Regions from separate parts of the Homo sapiens genome. Here region 2 is linked to region 1. Evidence: fine-mapped QTL for protein levels in blood plasma. Region 1 holds a variant in brackets. A gene starts in the other region. All regions are shown on their reverse strands. Region 1 overlaps CARINH (colitis associated IRF1 antisense regulator of intestinal homeostasis). Region 2 holds the start of ACY3 (aminoacylase 3).

What was found. PIP is the chance, under the fine-mapping model, that this variant and not a neighbour inherited with it causes the effect. Protein levels are from antibody-based Olink assays in UK Biobank. Linkage for the fine-mapping came from a reference panel and not from the study's own genotypes, which makes the PIPs less certain.
Region 2: it holds the start of ACY3, and the variant in region 1 is fine-mapped to the plasma level of the ACY3 protein (UK Biobank, PIP 0.99).

Annotation. Positions count from the first base shown.
Region 1 is chr5:132,456,710-132,466,587 of GRCh38, reverse strand. All of the region lies in intron 3 of CARINH (colitis associated IRF1 antisense regulator of intestinal homeostasis), which reads right to left. Among named protein-coding and RNA genes, the nearest start is that of IRF1, 29 kb to the left of the region's middle. RefSeq lists enhancers at 1-86, 1-497, 683-1,647, 1,689-1,758, 1,648-2,612 and 3 more. The variant T/C (reference allele first, on the strand shown) is at 4,733.
Region 2 is chr11:67,647,786-67,657,663 of GRCh38, reverse strand. It overlaps ACY3 (aminoacylase 3), which reads left to right and starts at 6,934. Exons shown (of 8, transcript NM_080658.2): 1 at 6,934-7,081. RefSeq lists enhancers at 6,653-6,712, 6,783-6,862, 8,593-9,012, 8,540-9,062, 9,473-9,552.

The DNA of each region.
Region 1 (9,878 bases):
CTTGGGAAGCCGGCTAGCTTGAGAAAGGCGTGTGGCACTCATGGAGGAAGTGGGCCGGCACTGGGGCTCTCACCATCTGCACCAGCCACACCGCTTCGGTGCAGCCTGGAGCTCAAACGGTTGGCGGTTTCAGTTTTTCACCTCCCTTTGGTGCATCTTCCAGCTTATCATTAAATAAGTAAAACTGTTGCTCCACCCCAGACAAATGTGGGAGGGAAGTTGTGTCTTCAATATTTCCCAAATAACACTCACTGCTCCCTCCCATTCATACAGCACCTTCGGGTCTGGGAGCTGTGCTCACATCTGCCATCTCATTACATCCTTGCAACCCTCGCAAAGGTAATGACTGAGCTCACACCATGTGTCAGGGACATGAATGAATTCACAGAATTCACTGTAATTGTCCCCATTTTACAGAAGAGAAAATGAGACAGAGAAATTCAGTCATTGGCTCAAGGTCATCACATAACTAGGATTTTCTCCCAGATGGCTGAGTTCCAAAGTCTGCCCTATTCTCTTCTGCTACATTGCCTCCATGGCACATACACAAGAACGAGTTCCATTTACTGATGAGAAAGTGAGGCTGAGGTGAAAGGGTGGTGTGGGGCCTGAGGTCAGCGTTGCTTCCTCAGTCCACATCTCCTCCCAGAGGATGGTCCACCAACGTCCTTCATCTGCCCTCCCCCTTTAAAAACCACTGTCAGCCCGGCACGGTGGCTCATGCCTGTAATCCCAGCACTTTGGGAGGCTGAGGTGGGTGGATCACCTGAGGTTGGGAGTTCGAGACTAGCCTGAGCAACATGGAGAAACCCCGTCTCTACTAAAAACACAAAAATTGGCTGGGTGTGATGGTGCATGCCTGCAATCCCAGCTACTCGGGAGGCTGAGGCAGGAGAATTACTTGAACCCAGGAGGCAGAGGTTGCGATGAGCCGAGATCACGCCATTGCACTCCAGCCTGGGCAACAAGAGTGAAACTCCATCTCAAAAAACAAACAAACAAACAAAAACACTGTCATGCCCCCACCGCCAGCTTGTCTCCCTTTCTTTTTAGGTGTGGCCCACAGAGCTCAGTGCCCTGCCTATCTGGAAGAGGCTGTGAAGCCCATCTATGTAGGTAACGGAGGCAAAGCAAGGGCTAGGGAGAGTGTGCCATGTGGGACACCTCCCCCTATCACCTCCCCACTGCCTGCACACACTGGGGACAGTCAAAGCATTCCTCAGGCTGGGGGTAGGAGCTGTGGGCGGAAGAGCTGGGGCATCTGTTCACAGAATCCTCCCCTGAAGTTGCTCGGAGGGGCTGGGATGCAGTCCAGACACTGGGGAGCCTGATGCAGACGCCTCCCTGGAGCACTGTCCTTCTCTTGGGCTCTTCAAGCCTGCCCTCACTCATGAACACATATTTTTTGTGTGTACTTCCTGCATGCCAGGCACTACCCAGGCACTGTGGATGCACAGTGAACAACACAGACCAGGTCCACGCGTCACAGACTTTACTTCCCTGAGGGAGGCAGACATTAGGCAAATAATCACATGGATCTCTGAAAAACATAGCTCCTACGAGAGGGTGCAACTTCAGGGGTCTTAACCTACAAAGGAGTGTGTGGGATTAGGGGGTTAGGGCAGCTGTTCTAAGGATGAGACATTTCAGGTGAGGAGAGGAATGGGGTGGAGTTGGCAGGGGGGCTGGTTCTCGGCTCTCCCCGACTGCCCTCCTTCCCCGCATTCCAGTCGCTTCAGGAAATCTGCCGCTTCCATGAGAGCTTCTTTGGTGGTGTCTTCCAAGCTGCTACCAAGCGATGGCTTTGCCAGCTGTTGCTTTCAGTGTTTGTGCCTGGGTGAGCACAGCCGGTATGAAATGGCCCAGATTAATCGAGAGCCAGGCCCCTCCTAAAGTACCTCTGAAAAGAGTTTTTCAGCATAAGCATGACATTAGCTTTTCCTAGAGAGGAAACCACCCCCGGGGCTGACAGCAAGCAGGCCAGGCTTAAAGGAAGCAAGTGCAGCGCTGGGGCCCCTCCATGCCCTGCTGCAGACAGGACACCCTCACTGCCTTCCCCCAACATGCTCCCCCACTCCCACTCCTGCTTCTTTCTCCCTGGGGGACTCTCCTTGTGGAAAAGAAACCCCAACAGTAGGGGGAGCGAGTGAAACTGGAAAATGAAACTGTGATTTCCAGTTTCATTTTCCAGTTTCAATTTAGAAGCAGCTCTGCCAGCTTTCCAGTGCCCGTGCCTCAGGGCATCACAGAGGAGCTGAGGGGCAGGAAAAAGTGTTCCAGCCAGCAAGCACCCTGCTCCCTGGGCACCCTCAGAGGGCAGGTACTGGACTGGTAGAACCCACTGAGCAGGGAGTTGTTGCAATGCCGATTCCTGGCTCTCCAGGCTCTGAGGCCGTACGTTTGGGCCCTTTGGTGATTCTGATGCAGGCTGTGGACCTCACCATGGCAGTCGTGGCCTCAGAGACCATCAGAACAGCTAGAGCACACCTGAGGCACGGCCTCATCCTCTCCAAGTCACTTCCTGCCACAGATGCTCGGGAAGTGCTGCTTCTCTGTGCAGCATCTCCTGCCCTCCTCCATCTGGTGTTGGAGGCATCTTAGATGTTCTCTGGGACCTGAGGTCTGTAGGAAACCCCGGCTGTGGACTTCACACAAGGGTCGCTCTTTCCCACACTCCAGGTTTCCCTTTAAGCTGCTAATTTGTAACAGGCATTCATAGAAACAGAATAAGATAGAGAAATTCTATTAAAGGACCTTATGTGCTTTTGCTCTGTCTGTTGCTCCATTTATTTGCAATTTATAGCCTAATCCAAGAGGATTTAAGGACAATTAAATATTTCTTTCCCCTCAGTGTGTGTGTGCGAGTGCACGTGTAAGAGTGTGTAGGGGTTGGGTCTTCCAATGTACCTTTGCCCTGGTTTGACCGTGGGGGGAGAGGGTGGGCAGGTCTCCAGGCCTGCCAGATGTAGACCTTTCCTAATGTCTACAGCAAATTTGTTCTTCAGTGTTTCTAGTATCAGTTTTTGATCAATCATTAATCAAAGTTGCAATAAAAAGATAATCTTCTCAGGACTAGGCTATAAAGGTCCTGGCTGCAACCTTAAAAAACCCTTCTGTGGAGGCCTCAGAGCCAAGAGAAAAGGGCGATGTGTCTGTGGCTGGATTTGGAGGTAAATGAACGTGCTGTCCCTCTCTAATTGGTGTGCACGAACATGAACTTCAGTCACTTGCGTGGCTATGGCCTCTTTCTTCATCTCTCCCTGCCAGTGAAGCTGGTGGTGCCCTGGCTCCCAAGCCAGGTGGCAAAGCTGGGGAAGGAGGCTGTAGTTGGGCCCAAATATGGGGGTCTGGGGGCACCTCCACAGGTTGTGACCACTGCAGCATGCTCTGGGGCCAGGCCTATGGCAGTGGAGGCAGGACAGCCCCCAGGACCACAGAGCCCCCATAGTGGAGGGAGCCACTACTTGGGCGGCTCAGCTCATTCCTGCTGACTTGCTGCTGTACAGGGCAGAGGGGTGCCTGAGACAAAGAGGAGACACACTTCTCCCACGAGAAATAAAGCAAGCAGCTGTTCCTCTCTTGGGCCCAGCAGGGGTCAGAGGCTGTGGGACCTTCACTCCTTCCCTCTCAGTGGAGAGGGCAGATCTGCTCTTTGGGGTGTGAGGGCACAGCCTCCTGACAAGCTGGAGAAGCAGGATTTAAGAGCTAGAATCAACGGAGAATGTGAGGCCCAGCATCAGGTTCAAGAAGCAAGGGGATCAAGGTTGGGGGGGAGGCAGGGAGCCTGAGCCTGGCGCAGCCCAGACCAACAGACTGAGGAGTCCAGAGAGCCAACATGCTCACTCGGCCATCGCTAAGATGTGTAGTGTGTGAGAAGGTGTGAGAGGTACTCGCGTTTCTCTCTCCAACCCCTTCCAACATATTATTGGGTCGTGGGTGCCATGTTTTTAGTAGACACATAAAATAAATGAGTATTTTCAGAGAAGTGCAACCCTGGAGGTGCAGGGGAGTGAACTCAGCCATGAGAAATCATTCAAAGGATTGACCTATGGAACAGGGATAGACTTGCTCTCCATGGCTCCAGCAGGGAAGCAGCAGAGAGGGGAACCTTTCCTGAAAGTCCAGTGTGACATCTGAAGACACACACACACACACACACACACTTTTTTGAGAGAGAGAACGAGAATGAAAAGATACACACTGATCTTTCAACAGTCGTTGTCTCTACCTGGTGATTGCGAATGATTTTAATTTTTTTCCTCTTGTGCTTACAGTATTTTCTAAAATCTCTAAAATACACCCAAATTACTTTCTTGTTATGGCAAAATAGACATAAAATGTCTACATCCATTTTAACCATTTTTAAGTGCAGAGTTCCATAGTATGAAGTACATTCTCACTGTTGTGCAGCCATCACCACCATCCATCTCCAGAACTTTTTCATCACCCTCAACATAAACTCTGCATCCACTAAGCAGTATCTCCCTGTTCTTCCTCCTTCCAGCCCCTGGCAACCATCCTTCTACTTTCTGTCTCTATGAATTTCACTATTCTAGGTACCTCATATAAGTGGGATCATCTGGTATTTTTCCTTCTGTGTCTGGCTTATTTCACTTAGCATAATGTTTTTAAGGTTCATCTATGTTATAACATGTACCAGAATTTCATTCCTTTTTAAAGCTGAATTATGTTCCATTGTACATATTCACCATATTTTGTTTATCCACTCCTC[T/C]TGTCATGGACATCTGGGTTGTTTCCACCTTTTGGCTATTGTGAATAATACTGCTACAAACACTGGTGTACAAATATCACTTTGAGTCCCTGCTTTCAATTCTTTTGGGTATATTCCTAGAAGTGGAACTGCGGGATCATATGATAACTAAGTTTTTGAGGAACCACCACATTGTTTTCAACAAAGGCTGCATGATTTTACGTTCCCAATAGCAATGCACAAGGGTATCTATTTCTTCACATCCTTGCCAACACTTATTTTCAGGTTGTTTTTGTTGTTTTAAAATAGCCATCCTAACAGATGTGAAGTGGTATCTTACTTATTATGGTTTTCATTTGCATTTCCCTAATCTAAATTACGTTTTAAAATCCAATCCTCTCTGAATTGAACCCTTTGTTCTTTATTTCTCAATAAAATGGACCTTGCCCCCTTTTTTTCCTTCTTTGTACCTATGCTCTGCATTTTAAAAAATTGTGGCAAAATACATATAACTTAAAACTTTACCATCTTAACCATTTTCAAGTGTAGAGTTCAGTATTAAGTATATTCACATTGTTGTGCCCTAACCCAAATATAGTATATAATGGCAAAAAGAAACAAAAGGCTCTCTAAAGAAAAAGAAAGCCGTGAATTCTTGGACCCCAGAGATGTTCACAAACAGATTGGATCAATCTCAGCAGGGACTTTCATTCATCTTCTGAGCATCTCTGCTGGGCTGGGCTCTGTGCCAGGCAGGGGTCTCCGTGGTGAGTGTGGCCTGGACTCTGCCCTTGGGGTTCAGCCTCTGTGGGGAACAGTTATACCCAAGGGCTGCTGTGGGCACAGAGGGACACCCTGTTGTGTGGGTGCGGCATTGGGAAGGGGCATAAGTGAGGTGGCACATGAGTTCAGGTGGGAAGGATGAGCAGACATGTACATGTGCAGAGAAGGGAACTGGCGTGTGTGGCTGGGCTGTGGCAGCACACCTCACAACCACCATTACAGGAGCATCTATTAATCATTTATGTCTGTCTCTCTACTTGATTATAAGCTGCATGAGAGCAGGGCTGATGGTTTTGTTCACTGCTGCATTGCTGCCATGCCCAGCACAGGCAAGTGTAAAAGAAACACTTGCTGAATAAATGAGTGGTTGATGACGAGGAAAAAGGAGACATTTCTTTCCAGAATCTTGGCTGTAAGCAGCAGACAGCATGGCTGTACTCCACGGGGAAGGCAGGATGGCAGGAAGCATTATACAGGTGATGGAGACAGGAGCACAGCAGGAGCCAGTGGAGAAGAAGAGTTTGAAGATTCCCTGGTTGAGAGAATGGAAGGGCGTAATTGCTGGGGAGAGGTCCCTGAAGAAAGGGGAGAGGCTGGGATGCAGGCTCAGTGGAAGGAGAGGAGTCTCCTTATGAGACTCAGATGGCCAGTGTGAAAAAGACAGAAGATACCAACTGCTGGTAAGAATGGGAAGCACACTGCATGGGGAACTCTCCTACACTGCTGGAGGCGTGTTCTTCCTGTTATTCTAGATTCAGACAGCACTCTGGTCGCTGGTTGGTGCAGGCCACCATTTGGGCCAATTAGAGGAACCCCAATATCTGCACTTGGACTATCAGAAATGAGAGCTCTACGCCCAGAGCAATTTCCAAGATGGGCCTGAATCCATGAGTCATGGCACTACATGGAGCCCAGGGTTGGCTCTGAGCCTAACAGCCTCCAAAATGTCAACTTTGTTCACGTGCCACTTTGTCCCTCATCTCATGCCATGCAGCTGGCAGGACTTCAGTTGACAGAAGGTAGACCCTGCTCTTTTCAAAAAGCACACAGGACAGGTGCTGATAGGCCAGCCCCTCCCACTGAGCTCTAGTTACTGCGGTGAACTTCACCAGGAGGTTCAGCGCCCACTGTGGCTCTGCCTGAGGGGCCTCTGTGCACACTCAGTCCAGGCACTAGCATCCCAGCGCCTGGCCAGTGGTCCAACTCCAGACTCACTACACAGAGCCCCTTGCAACCGATGTGTGCCAACATGGAGCCCACACAGGGCAGCTCAGCGTGACACCTGCACAGCTCAAGACTGAGGGAAGGAAATGCATCTTCTTTCTCAAGTTGGAAGAGGCTGTACTGAATTACCAAATGGCATTATACTCTCTGTGGGGGAGCACAGATGAGTGTCCGGCAGTCCCTGGGATGATGTTACAGTCCAGAGGTGGGGATGAGATGAGCCCAGATGATGCAATGGGGATGCAATCAAGACACGATGTCATTAGAAGCCACAGTGTGTTCTCTCATGCCACGTGTTTCCCAGCTTAGAGGAGTAAGGGGTCGGGGGGGGGAGTGGCCCCCTGGGACCCTGCTCTAGGACGCATGCATAAGGACCCACATGCAAACGCACAGAATTCAAGAGCTAGCCAGGCCTGGACCCATGTAGGAGAGCCCCACTGGCTGATTTCCAATCTGGGACAAAGGCCACAGACAGGAGGCCTCCCTTGGCCACACCCAGGTCCCCAGAACATATGCTCCACTGTCCCCAGTCTAACCACAACCCCATATGAGCTGTGTCCCATTCATGTTGGCCTAGAAACTGGGAAGTACCTGGCATGGGGCCCTCCGCTTCCTCCCCATGACTGCCTGGAGCTCTGGGGAGACCACCAAGGGGCCATTTTTGTGGTTAGGAAATGTCTGTGGCAGCTGTGGACACCACAGGCCCTCCCTGGACCCTTCTGAAGTAGAGGTCACATTCCTAAAGATTCTTAACTGCCAGCTCCAATTGCTTCTTCCTGACAGGCTCATCTTAGTAGGGAGTGAATATAATCTTTTCCCAGTTCCACGAGGTCCTCTCAGATCCAAAATGCTCTAAGTTCAAAGGCAAATCATGAAGAAAGGGAGACGCAGATACTAATTTGTGGTTTTAGTTCAGTGGTTTTCCACCTTGGCTACACAGTAGAGTTACCTAAGGAGCTTTTTAAAAATACTCATGTCCAAATATTCCAACAGGCACTTTGCAAAGAGAAGATCTAAATGGCTAACAAACATATGAAAGGTTGCTCAGCTGTATTAGTCATCAGGGAAATGCAAATTCAAACCACACTGTGATACCACTACATACCTGCCAGAATGGCTAACATGAAAAAGATAGAAAATATCTATGGTTGGCAAAAATGTGAAGCAACCAGAACTCTCATACATTGCTGGAGGGAGTGTAAATGGGTACAGCCACCTGGGAACATTATTTGGCATAAGGTACTAAAGCTGAACATACTCATACCCATGCTTCCCCAGCAATGGATATACATGTACTCCAAAAATACACACTAGCATGTCATTGCAATAGTCAGAATAGTTCCGAATTATAAATAACAACTCGAATATCCAAAAATGCATCACAGTAGAATGGATAAATCGAGGAATATCCATAGAGTGGAATACTCTATAGCAAGAAGAGTGAATAAACTGCAGCTCTAAGTAACAACTTGGATGAATCATCTCACAAACACAACAAGAGGATATATACTGCCTGATTCCATTTACATCATATAAAGTTTGAAAACAGGAGAAATGACTGTACACCATTAGAAGCCAGAATGGACATTAGCCTTTGGAGCCAGGTAGTAAGTGGAAGGGGTACCAGGGGTTGCTGGTGATGTTCTGTTTCATGATTTGGATGCTGGTTACTCGGGGTAAATTCATTTTGTGAAAATTCACTGAGCTTTACACTTATGGTTTGTGCTTTTTTTTTTTTTTTTGCATGTATGTCATCCTTCAACAAACACTTAAAAAATGTTTGAAAACCCCATCAATTCAGTCAGACTCTTTGGGTGGGAGCAAGATCCAGGCATCAGTATTTTTTAATATCCCAGATGATGGTAATATGCAGCCAGGATTTAAAGTCACTGGTTTAATATCTTGGGAAAAGCAGATCCACTCAAGACCTCACAGGGTCCTGACAAAGGCCACTTCCAGCTCAGTGGAGTGAGACACTGGGGTGGGAAGATGTCCATTTTTTGGATGTGGGTCAGTCTCTTGCACAGGCAGAGGTATTGCAGCATGCTGTTGTAATGTGTATCTTCCTTGGCAGTGTCTGTTGAAAGCTGGTTGCATCAGTTTGTAATGGGGTGTAATGGCAACAAGGTGGGCCCAGCCCCCCCCAGGAAGTGGATCACTGAGCACAGCTTCTACAGGGCCATTTGTAGAGAGGTGGCAGCTGGGCTTCCCAGGGGCTGCCACCCAGGGCAGAGCCAGTGCTGAGGCTCTGACAACCTCGGCAGGGTGGGGAGAAGGCCAGACTCAGGGTGTTTATGTTTGTGGGTAATGACAGTCAGCTCTGGGCTCCAGATGATGCTTACTCCCTGGCCTCTGTGTTCAGATTAGGAACTTGCAACATCTTGCTGAGGACCATGTCAGGCTCAGCTCTAAGTGCTGTGGCTGAGAATTTTCCTTCCTCTCTGTGTGGTTAGTGGCAGCCTCCCTAGCAATGGCTGACCTCTAGCATACTCTGTCAAACTACAGGCAGCTGGGACAAGACAGGACATGGGGCTCACAGACAGGTATTCCACAACCTGGGCCCTGTCAACCCTCCCAGAAATGCATGGGCCATGAACCTCCTGCTGTGGGAGGGGCAGTGCAGAGAAGTCTCAATAAGCTTCTCTTGGCCCTCTGGGATCTCCACCATCCACAGTGTGTAGGGCTGAGCTGCAGGCTGGGTCTTCAGGTGGTGTCCCTGCACATCTGCTTTGCAGCGTGGCGTCTATAGAGCAAGAGTGAACAGGAAGGGGCCTCGGGCCTCCTGTAGCTCTGCTGGGCAGGGACGCTGCGGGGCCTCAGCTGGGCTTCCTTGGCTAAAGGGCACAGAGTGGCGTAGGCTGCAAGAGGACAAGCTAAGCTGATGAAGGCTCTATCACTCAAGGGTAGCCATGTAAAAAAAAATCCCTACAGGTAAAAGAAGCATGAATAAGACAGGCGGGGCATAACAGTGTCTCCCCACTGAAGCTGCAACTCTCTGCTTCACTGGCTTCAGCCTCCTCTCTGTGAAATGGGGGCAATGTCCCCTAGGCCTTTTCCTCCTGTCCAGTAGGGCTGAGGGTCTACAGGCCAGAGGGAGGCCTGGGCTCTGAGGCCTGTGCCTGTGTGGCCTCTGGCTGGGACCTCAGCCCCCATGTGCCAC
Region 2 (9,878 bases), not on the chromosome of region 1:
CATGGAAAAACCTTAACACTTTAAAGCTCAGTCTCCCTAAGCAATCTGTGTTTCCTAGGCTGGTGAGCAGGGGAATACATTAGTAATACCATGGGAAGTCCTGGTTACATGAAACAACTCAGACACATTAAGAAAAACCAAGAACACAGAATCAGTTTATACTGGCGTAAAGCTGCTTTTCTAGACCTTTGAGATAAACCTGAAACCAAAGAAATTAGACTGATCTTAAGAAGGAATATGACAGAAACAGAAACTAATTTGTAATTCAGAGAATGGCTATTAACGAAGCAGGTTTTAGAAATAAATATCAAAACCTCTTGGAACTTTACTAAGAGTGAATTAATGTCTTAAGAAACTGCTGTTTTTTGTTTGTTTGTTTTTAAGACGGAGTCTCGTTCTGTCACCCAAGCTGAAGTGCAGTGGTGTGATCTCGGCTCACTGCAAGCTCCGTCTCCTGGGTTCACGCCATTCTCCTGCCTCAGCCTCCTGAGTAGCTGGGACTGCAGGTGCACGCCCCCAAGCCTGGGTAATATTTTGTATTTTTAGTAGAGACGGGGTTTCACCATGTTAGCCAGGTTGGTCTCAAATCTCCTGACCTCATGATCCACCTGCCTCGGCCTCCCAAAGTGCCTGGATTACAGGCATGAGCCACTGCGCTCAGCCGAAACCACTGTTGTTTTAACACAGGGGACCAAAATTGTAAGTTATGTATCATGTGTTTTAACATTCAAATTCATTCTCTAGAAAAACTGTTACAGGCCAGGCATGGTGGCTCATGCCTGTAATCCCAGCACGTTGGGAGGCCAGGATCACCTGAAGTCAGGAGTTCAAGACCAGCCTGGCCAACATGGTGAAACCCCATCTCTACTGAATATACGAAAATTAGCCAGGCATGGTAGTGCACGCCTGTAATCCCAGCTACTCAGGAGGCTGAGGCAGGAGACTCACTTGAACCCAGGAGATGCAAGTTGCAGTGTGGCAAGATCGAACCACTGCACTCCAGCCTTGGCAAATGAGCAAGACAGCCAGACTCCATCTCAAAAAAAAAAAAAACTATTACAAATCATTTCATTTAATTACAGCCAATTTAATCACACCCAACATTTCCATCATAAGTTCCCATTCACAAGCCTTATCATGACTTACTCAGACAGCTGTGGCATGCTTGGACTTGCCCTGTACTTCCTCTTTCTTAAATGTCTAGTCATTTTAGTCCAAGACAGAGATTGAACACACAAGTTTCTTTCCTATACAAAATTACTCTCATTGCTTCACATCTGTAATTTTCTTTACATCTCTGTCTCATCTACTTACTGGTTCCTTTTAATCTTTTTTCTATTTCTTTCCTAAATCCATATTTTAAAACTCCCTTTAAATAACAGCTAAATTAGACAAATTACTTTTTTTCTCAATAAAGAATATATTGTATACCTTTCTTACTGTTTTCTTATTAAGTGCTCCTTACTTTTGGCACACTTCCTATATAGAATTGTATATTAGGATTTTTAAAAACCCTTAGTACTCTTAAATTTTTGTTTTTAATTATCTTTTTTCTTTTTTTGAAACAAGGTCGTGCTCCATCACCCAGGCTGGAGTGCAGTGGCATTGATTTTGGCTTACTGGAGCCTTGACCTCCCTGGCTCAAGTGATCCTCCCACCTCAGCCTCCTGAGTAGCTGGGACTACAGTAGGCATGTGCCACCACCCCTGGCTAATTTTTTCTTTTTTGTTTTTCAGTAGAGACAGAGTTTCACTATGTTGCCCAGGCTGGTCTGAACCTCCTGATCTCAAACGATCCTCCTGCTTCAGCTTCCCAAAGTGCTGGAATTACAGGCATGAGCCACAGTGCCCATCCAGTTCCCTTAAATTTTGTTGAAAACATAGGAAGCACAAAATCTTGAACTTCCTATCACATATTGGTATTTTATGGGGAAGAGCCATTTTGTAATTGTTAGAAAAACATGTTTTCCTATAGCATAATTTTTATACGTATTTATAGGCCCAAACATATTTAGTCTTTATATTAAATTTAAGAGACCCAGGGCAAACATATTTATGGTCAGCAATTTGTTCCAGTTTTTGTCTTATTTGGAAATAACTCACATAGTTAATGAGTATCCATTACCTAATAGAGGATTTCAAATTACATTAAAAAGCCGATAGATACTTATCCCATTTACCTTTACATACTTTATTTATTTTTAGCAGTTTACCAGGATTACTTATGAGAACTGATATATTAGACAAAGCTAGTCATCATTTCAAATTATTTATCTGTTAATTACCTTTATATAGCTGGATGTCAGGCAACTATCATAAAAGTAAGAACCTTTAAGGCCGGATGCTGTGGCTCACGCCTGTAATCCCAGCACTTTAGGAGGCCGAGGTGGGCAGATCACGAGGTCAGGAGATCAAGACCATCCTGGCTAACACAGTGAAACCCCATCTCTACTAAAAAAAAAAAAAAAATACAAAAAATTAGCCGGGCGTGGTGGCAGGCGCCTGTAGTCCCAGCTACTCGGGAGGCTGAGGAAGGAGAATGGCGTGAACCCGGGAGGCAGAGCTTGCAGTGAGCCGAGATCACGCCACTGCACTCCAGCCTGGGCGACAGAGCGAGACTCCGTCTCAAAAAAAAAAAAAAAAAAGTAAGAACCTTTAAGTTACATTTCAGAAGGCACACCATTCCCATCAAACCAACAATTTTAGACTAGTTCCATTCACCAAAAGATTACTGTCATGTGAACTTGAAAAGCACTTGGTCTTATTTGCTTAGTTTATGAGTACTCATTTCTTTATAAGCCAATTCGGTACCATAGCCAAATATAACCGGACGTGTACATACTACCAGATACAAATAACGATCCTATAGCTTTAACTTTTAAAGGTTTAGCCATGGGTCAGGTAAAATTCACTACTTAAAAGACAGTTCCAACTCTGTCTCCGTCCAACTAACAATTTTAGCTAAAATTTATCTCTCCCATACAGCAGAAGCCCTTTCCTAAATTTTAGGAAGAACACGGTAGAAAGGAGACAGGCAAAAATTTGGCTCTAGTGTCGGAAAACCCGTGAGTCTCTCCCACAGCAATTGTTACCCGATCTAGGGGTTCCCAGATCATAGAGGAGTCCCCAAGTCCCATCACTTCTGGTCACTATTAGCAAACTGTAGCATCTGGTGGGCTGATTGACGGGGAAGTTTCTTTCCCTACCCACTGGGGACAGTTAGGACACTCTAGTACCCAATGGCCCTCTTGTTTACAATATGCACACTGTTGTGTTCTCAAGGGCGGGAGGCCCTTTGGCCGGGCAGTGGGGTCCCTAGGGATCTTACTTATGGCTGATCATCTCCAGTGAACTGTTTTGTTTTTTTGTTTTTTGTTTTTTTCAAGAAAGAGTTTTGCTCTTGTCGCACAGGCTAGAGTGCAATGGCGCGATATCAGCTTACAACCTTCGCTTCCTGGGTTGAAGCGATTCTCCTGCTTCAGCCTCCCGAGTAGTTGGGATTACAAGTGCCCACCACCATGCCTGGCTAATTTTTTATATTTTTAGTAGAGACAGGGTTAGCCATGTTGGCCACGCTGGTCTTGAACTCCTGACCTCAGGTGATCCTCCCGCCTCAGCCTCCCAAAGTGCTGGGATTACGGACATGAGCCACCACGCCTGGCCGCAGTGAACTGTTTCTTGTGTACTGGCTGGTTGTAGCCAAGAGACTCGATGGCTTCTTGTCTTGTGTTGCCTTTTTGTTTTTTGTTTTTTGTTTTTTTTTTGCCCTTCCTGGACCTGGCCACAGTTGCTCAATACCTTAAGGGTAATCTCAACCAATGGAGATGTCAGCATCCCCAGTGTCCCTTCTGCTTTTTGTAGTTTATCCGCATGGCTTCTGCCACTGGAGTCCTGCTACAATTACTGTTTTCCCATATTACCCACCCAGCAGCTTAGAGGCGGGATTGGTGGTGACACAGATCCCACAACTCTTGGCCCACACTCAACTAGTTTTAAAAATATATTGGTGGGGAGGGGCGGGCATGGTGGCTCATGCCTATAATCACCACGCTTTGGGAGGCCGAGGTGGGTGGATCACTTGAGCTTAGGAGTTCGAGACCAACCTAGGTAAGATGGTGAAACCCTGTCTCTATAATATTAGGTTGGTTCAAAAGTAACCGCTGTTTTTGCCATTGAAAGTAATGGCAAAAACTGCAATTACTTTTGTACCAATCTAATTTTTTAAAAATTAATTAATTAAAAAAAATTGGAAGGCATAGATTTCACTCGGCAAGGCAGGAAATCTTGTAACTGCTCTATACTGTGGCTCTGCCGACCGCCCGGCACTGCTCCAGCAGATGCAAACTGCCCGAGATTTTGATGAATTCACTGAAGGAAATAAAGACATTGTGTTTAAAAACACAGCAGAAAGGTTGGGTGTGGTGGCTTATGCCTGTAATCTCAGCACTTTAGGAGGCTGAAGGGGGTGGATCACTTGAGCTCAGGAGTTTGAGACCAGACTGGACAACATAGCAAGACCCCATCTCAAAAAAAAAATTAGCTGGGTGCGTGCCTGTAGTTTCAGCTACTTGGGAGGCTGAGATGGGAGGACTGCTTGAACCTGGAAGTTGGAGGTTGCAGTGAGCCACAGTCGAGCCACTGCACTCCAGCCTGGGTGACAGAGCCGGACCTTGTCTCAAAATTAAAAAAAAAAAAAACCCACTGCAGAAGACCTTCAGAATTGCTTGCCTCTAGAAACCATGCTTTCCTCAGAACATCTAACCCTTCAAAAACTACAGCAGCAGCCAGAACCCACCATTCACGCTGACGCATTCCTTTGTGATAAAGACTTCATTGATTCATTATGTGACAAAGGGAAAATGAGCAGAAACTACTGGGTGGTTCACACCAAACAGAACCTTTAGACCGATTGCTCGTTCCTTCTCCCTCATGGAATTGAAGTTCATTTATCTTCATGCACTCCCTGATCAATCAGGAAAGGCTGTGGCTGACGTCAGCTCCAGGCTCAGCACAGTCTTTATGGGGTGATCTTATAGCTTAGCAGTGCAACCCTGTGGAGTAGAACTGAACGGAGACTTTTGCCAGTTGCAGGAAATGGTCATTAAAAAATACCAGTTTATTCACAGAATAAAGGTGCTTCATGCAGACATCTGTCCCCAGGGTTTCTTCTGCAAAATGCTGATGCTGCTATCATGAATAATGTCTTCAAATATTCTCTTAATGAGGCAGAACAAGCCGGAGCTGGGAATACATTTGTCATAATGTAAGGAAGCAGATCATCATCAGTGACAGTGCCAAGTCTTGAAGATTCTCTCCTGGGTCTTCAGACTAATACACATTTATCTCCCTGGGTTGAAGAAGTACTGTGGGACTATGATGTATACCCACAAAAGGATATTGACAAAGAAGCTCTTTATTTATTTATTTATTTATTTATTTATTTATTTATTTATTTATTTTCTTTTGAGACAAGGTCTCACTGTGTTGTCTAGCCTGGAATGCAGCCATACGATAACGGCTCACTGTACTCACGGTACGATTACCTCCAACTCCCCGTGCTCAAGTGATTCTCCCGCCTCAGCCTCCTGAGTAGCTGGGGCCACAGCTGTGTGTGCCACCACCTGGCTAATTTTTTTTTTTTTTTTTTTTTGAGACAGAGTTTCGCTCTTGTCGCCCAGGCTGTAGTGCAATGGCATGATCTCGGCTCACTGCAACCTCTGCCTCATGCCTCAGCCTCCCAAGTAGCTGGGATTACAGGCACCCACCACCATGCCTGGATAAATTTTGTATTTTTAGTACAGACGGGGTTTTGCCATGTTGCCCAGGCTGGTCTTACACTCCTGACATCAGGTGATCCACTCGCCTCAGCCTCCCAAAGTGCTGGGATTATAGGTGTGAGCCACCGCGCCCACCCTAATTTTTTTTTTTTTTTTGGTAGAGACAGGGTCTCCCTATGTTGCCCAGGCTGGTCTTGAACACCTAGGCTCAAGCAATCTGCCCCCCTTGGCCTCCCAAAGTGTTGGGGTTACAGGTGTGAGCCACTGCACCCAGCTGACAAAGAAGCTCTTGAACAAATTCATTTAATGAGATTCTCTAGCACTAAAATAGTCCTACCTCATTGTAATGTTTTGTAGAGTATCTTATAAAACAATGAAAAAAAACCAGTATTTTAATACATATTTTTCTGTATATTTCCTTCTAGCCTTTGTACATATGATCACATATTTGTAAAAAGTTGTATGTATATATATACAACTTTACCCGCTTTGTGTGATGATATGACAAAAACATTTATCTGAAAAAAGTATTTTTTTCATCAAATGGCAGAGCTCCTGTTTCTGGTAACCCGGGGTATGGCAAGTAGGGGCTCTGGGAGATGGAGCAGCTCAGCCTCCTGTGAAAAATTCTGTTTCTCTAAAAAAGAACAAATTCTCATGCTGGGCGCGGTGGCTCACGCCTGTAATCTCAGCACTTTGGGAGGCCGAGGCGGGCGGATCACGAGGTCAAGAGATCGAGACCATCCTGGCTAACACGGTGAAACCCCGTCTCTACTAAAAATGCAAAAAATTAGCCGGGCGTGGTGGCGGGCGCCTGTGGTCCCAGCTACTCAGGAAGCTGAGGCAGGAGAATGGCGTGAACCCGGGAGGTGGAGCTTGCAGTGAGCCGAGATCGCGCCACTGCACCCCAGCTTGGGTGACAGAGCCAGACTCTGTCTCAAAAAAAAAAAAACGAATTCCCAAAACTAGTCCCACTGTTGTCTACCCAGATCCGGGATCCGGGTTGCCCTTGGCCTGGCCAGAGATGCCTCTCAATCCCCCACGGCACGTAGAGCCAGACAGAAACCGAAAGCAGAGGTGCCCTGCGCTGAAGTCTAGAGATCCCACTGCTAGGTCCAAAGAATTTACCCTTTCAGTCAACCCACGGGGCAAAGTCCACTTTCTTCCCTGAAGGAGCAGCACAGAACAAAAGCTCCAGGCAGCTGCTTCCGCTGTTTCGGGGGTAGGGCGGAGTGACAGCCCCACGGGCCACGCAGCAAGCAGAAGATCCCCGGGAGTCACCCTCAACCCTCTGGGGCCACGTGGGTGAGTTCGCCCGGGGAAGGTGCCGCGGCCCACTGCTTTACCTTAGTGAGCCTCAAGAAGTTAGGATCAGAATCCCAGTCGGCCCCATCTGGGTCGCCAGAGTTTTGTTACCCACACAACGGGTGGGCTCAGTTGCTTGGCGGGTGTTAACTAAAGAGGATTTAATAGGGGATTTTATTTCTTGCAACAAGTAAGGAGAACACCTAGACAGCTCCCAAAGCAGTGTCTCCCCGAGCTGAGGGCTGGGGCAGGTTTTATAAGCATAGGGTAATGAGGCGTGATCTGATTGCATCTTGCAATGAGGTGATGCTGGGAGGCATGATCTAATTGGATGCTGACACAGGGGGGAACCACAGCTCTGACCCCTCTCTGGGTCTCAGTTTCCCCAACTGCAGTGAGGAAATTGGCCCCCGTGATGATGCCCATGACATCACCATCCTCTGCCCTCACTCATGCTGGGGTCTCCATGTGCCCATTTTCAAGCTTGTGCCCGCCCTTTGTTCCTCACTCCCCACAGCTGCCCTTGGCCAGGACTTTCACAGGGTGGAGCCAAGGCCCAGAGAGGGCACTGAATCTCTCCAGGTCACACAGCCTGTCAGGGAGGTGGGGCCAGAGCCAGGTCACACGTGTGCACACAACACACACACACGCACACATGCTCACGCACATGCACGCACACACGCTCTCAAGCACATGCACACATGCACACACATGCACACACACTCTCATGCACACACGCACACATGTACACACACATGCATGCACACATGCACACAATACTCTCATGCACATGCACACACGTACACACGCACACATGCATGCTGTCACACATGCGCACACACGCACACATGCTCTCATGCACACACGCACACATGTACACATACATGCACACATGCACACAATACTCATGCACATGCACACACATGTACACACGCACGCACACACGCATGCTGTCACGTACACATGTGAGTGCACACACGCACACACATGCTCTCATGCACACGCACACATGTACAGATGCACACATGCATGCACACACATGCACACACGCGCACACACTGCCAGGACTGGGGGCTGCTGTTTCTGAGGGTTCCTGGACCCCGTTCTGTTCCATAAACACTCACTGAAATGCAGAAGCTGGACCCCAGCCAAGGGAAGTGAAACTTTCCAGCACCCCTACTGCTGTTCTCCCTAAACTTGGGGGCCCAGCACCTTGTGGCAGGAAGCACCCTGGCCCCCAGCAGCCCCCAAAATAGCTAGGTCTGCCACGGAGGCCCTTCCTTCCTGAGAGGTACCACACCGAGTCAGCAGGATCCCAGCCTCTGTGGGGGTTGGGGGGGCCTTCCAACAAAGACCATGGCCTGGGACTCATAAAGCAGCATGGGGGTCCCTGAGACCCCTACCCCAAGCAAGGAAGGAACAGACCCAGGCCGACAGGCTCCTCTGCTGACTCCCTCTCCCACCACCTGCCAAGGACTCAGTCAAGTCACCCAACCCCTAGAGCTTCAGTCCACACCTGCAAAATGGAGCCGGTGACAGCTGCCCCCAGGGCTGGGCCGGATACAGGAGTTGATGGCATGGCATGGCCCCCTAATGGCAGTCTCTGCCCTCCCTTTGCTGAGGCTCCAGGTGCCAGGAGGAGTGGCCCCTGGAGGGGGCTCATAGGGAGCCCCGGCCCACTGGGGGCTCAGCCTCACACTCCATCCACCCCTCTTGACACCCTGTCAAGATCCCAGCTGCCCTGATGGGAGCCAGGATGACAAATCCCCTGTCCCCACAATCGCCATGCTCTGAGCTCACGAAGCCTTGGGTGTGGAGGGCAGGAGAGCCCAGGCCACACAGAGCTGAGTGTGATCTGGGGCAGCTTCCGAGAGGGTGTAACTTAGAGGGTCCTGGCCACCCAGAGCCCCCCAGGCTGGTGGGCCTGGCATCTGGAGCAGGGCTGGACTGGCCCGGGGAGACCCAGTGTGGTGGTAAAGAAGGCCCAGGATCGATGCCTGGGGGAGGCTCCAGCTCAGGGTCCCAGCACCTGGCATCCAGCAGGCCCTGGCGGAGCAGCTTGCCTCACTCCCCAGTGACTTCGGAACTGGCCTCAGCTCCTCCCAGCAGACAGCTGAGCCTGGTGGGAGGTAGAGGCCCCAGGGCTGAGTGCAGGGGACCTCACCTTCATCCTTCCCCACTTTGCTCTTGAGAGGCAGCAGGAGGGGATGGAGCCACATTGGACGCACTGAGTGCCACCTACAGCCCGCCTCTAGGGCTCTGTGCGCCACCTGCAGCCCGCCTCTAGGGCTCTGTGTGCCGCTGAACAGTCTGCCCCTAGGGTTCTGTGGGCCACCTGCAGCCTGCCTCTAGGGCTTGTGTGCCTGCAGACAATTTTCTGAGCCTCAGTTTTCACATCTATAAAATGAGCCTGAGGGTTGTTCCCAAAACAGGGCAAACCGAGTCATCTGAGTTACACTGTCCTTGAAAATGACTGAAATCCCGGATCAAACATTTTAAAATTTTGCTTAAAGCAACAAAGAGCTGTAAAACTGGGGCTCCACATGGCACCTTTGGGTAAGGGCGACTCAGGAGTGACCACAGCCCTCTCCGGGCTGCAAGGACAGAGGCATGTTGCCGAGGTGGTGAAGGAGGGGCAGCTTGTCATCTTGGTGGCCATCAAGGTGACACCTCTATAGTAACTTTCAATAGCCTGCTCTGGTGGTGACCAAAACCAAGTCACCACCCCACTGCGGGTGTACCTCTTAGTAGTGTTAAGGAAGGTGGCCCCTCTGGGGCCCAGCAGAAGGACGAAGGG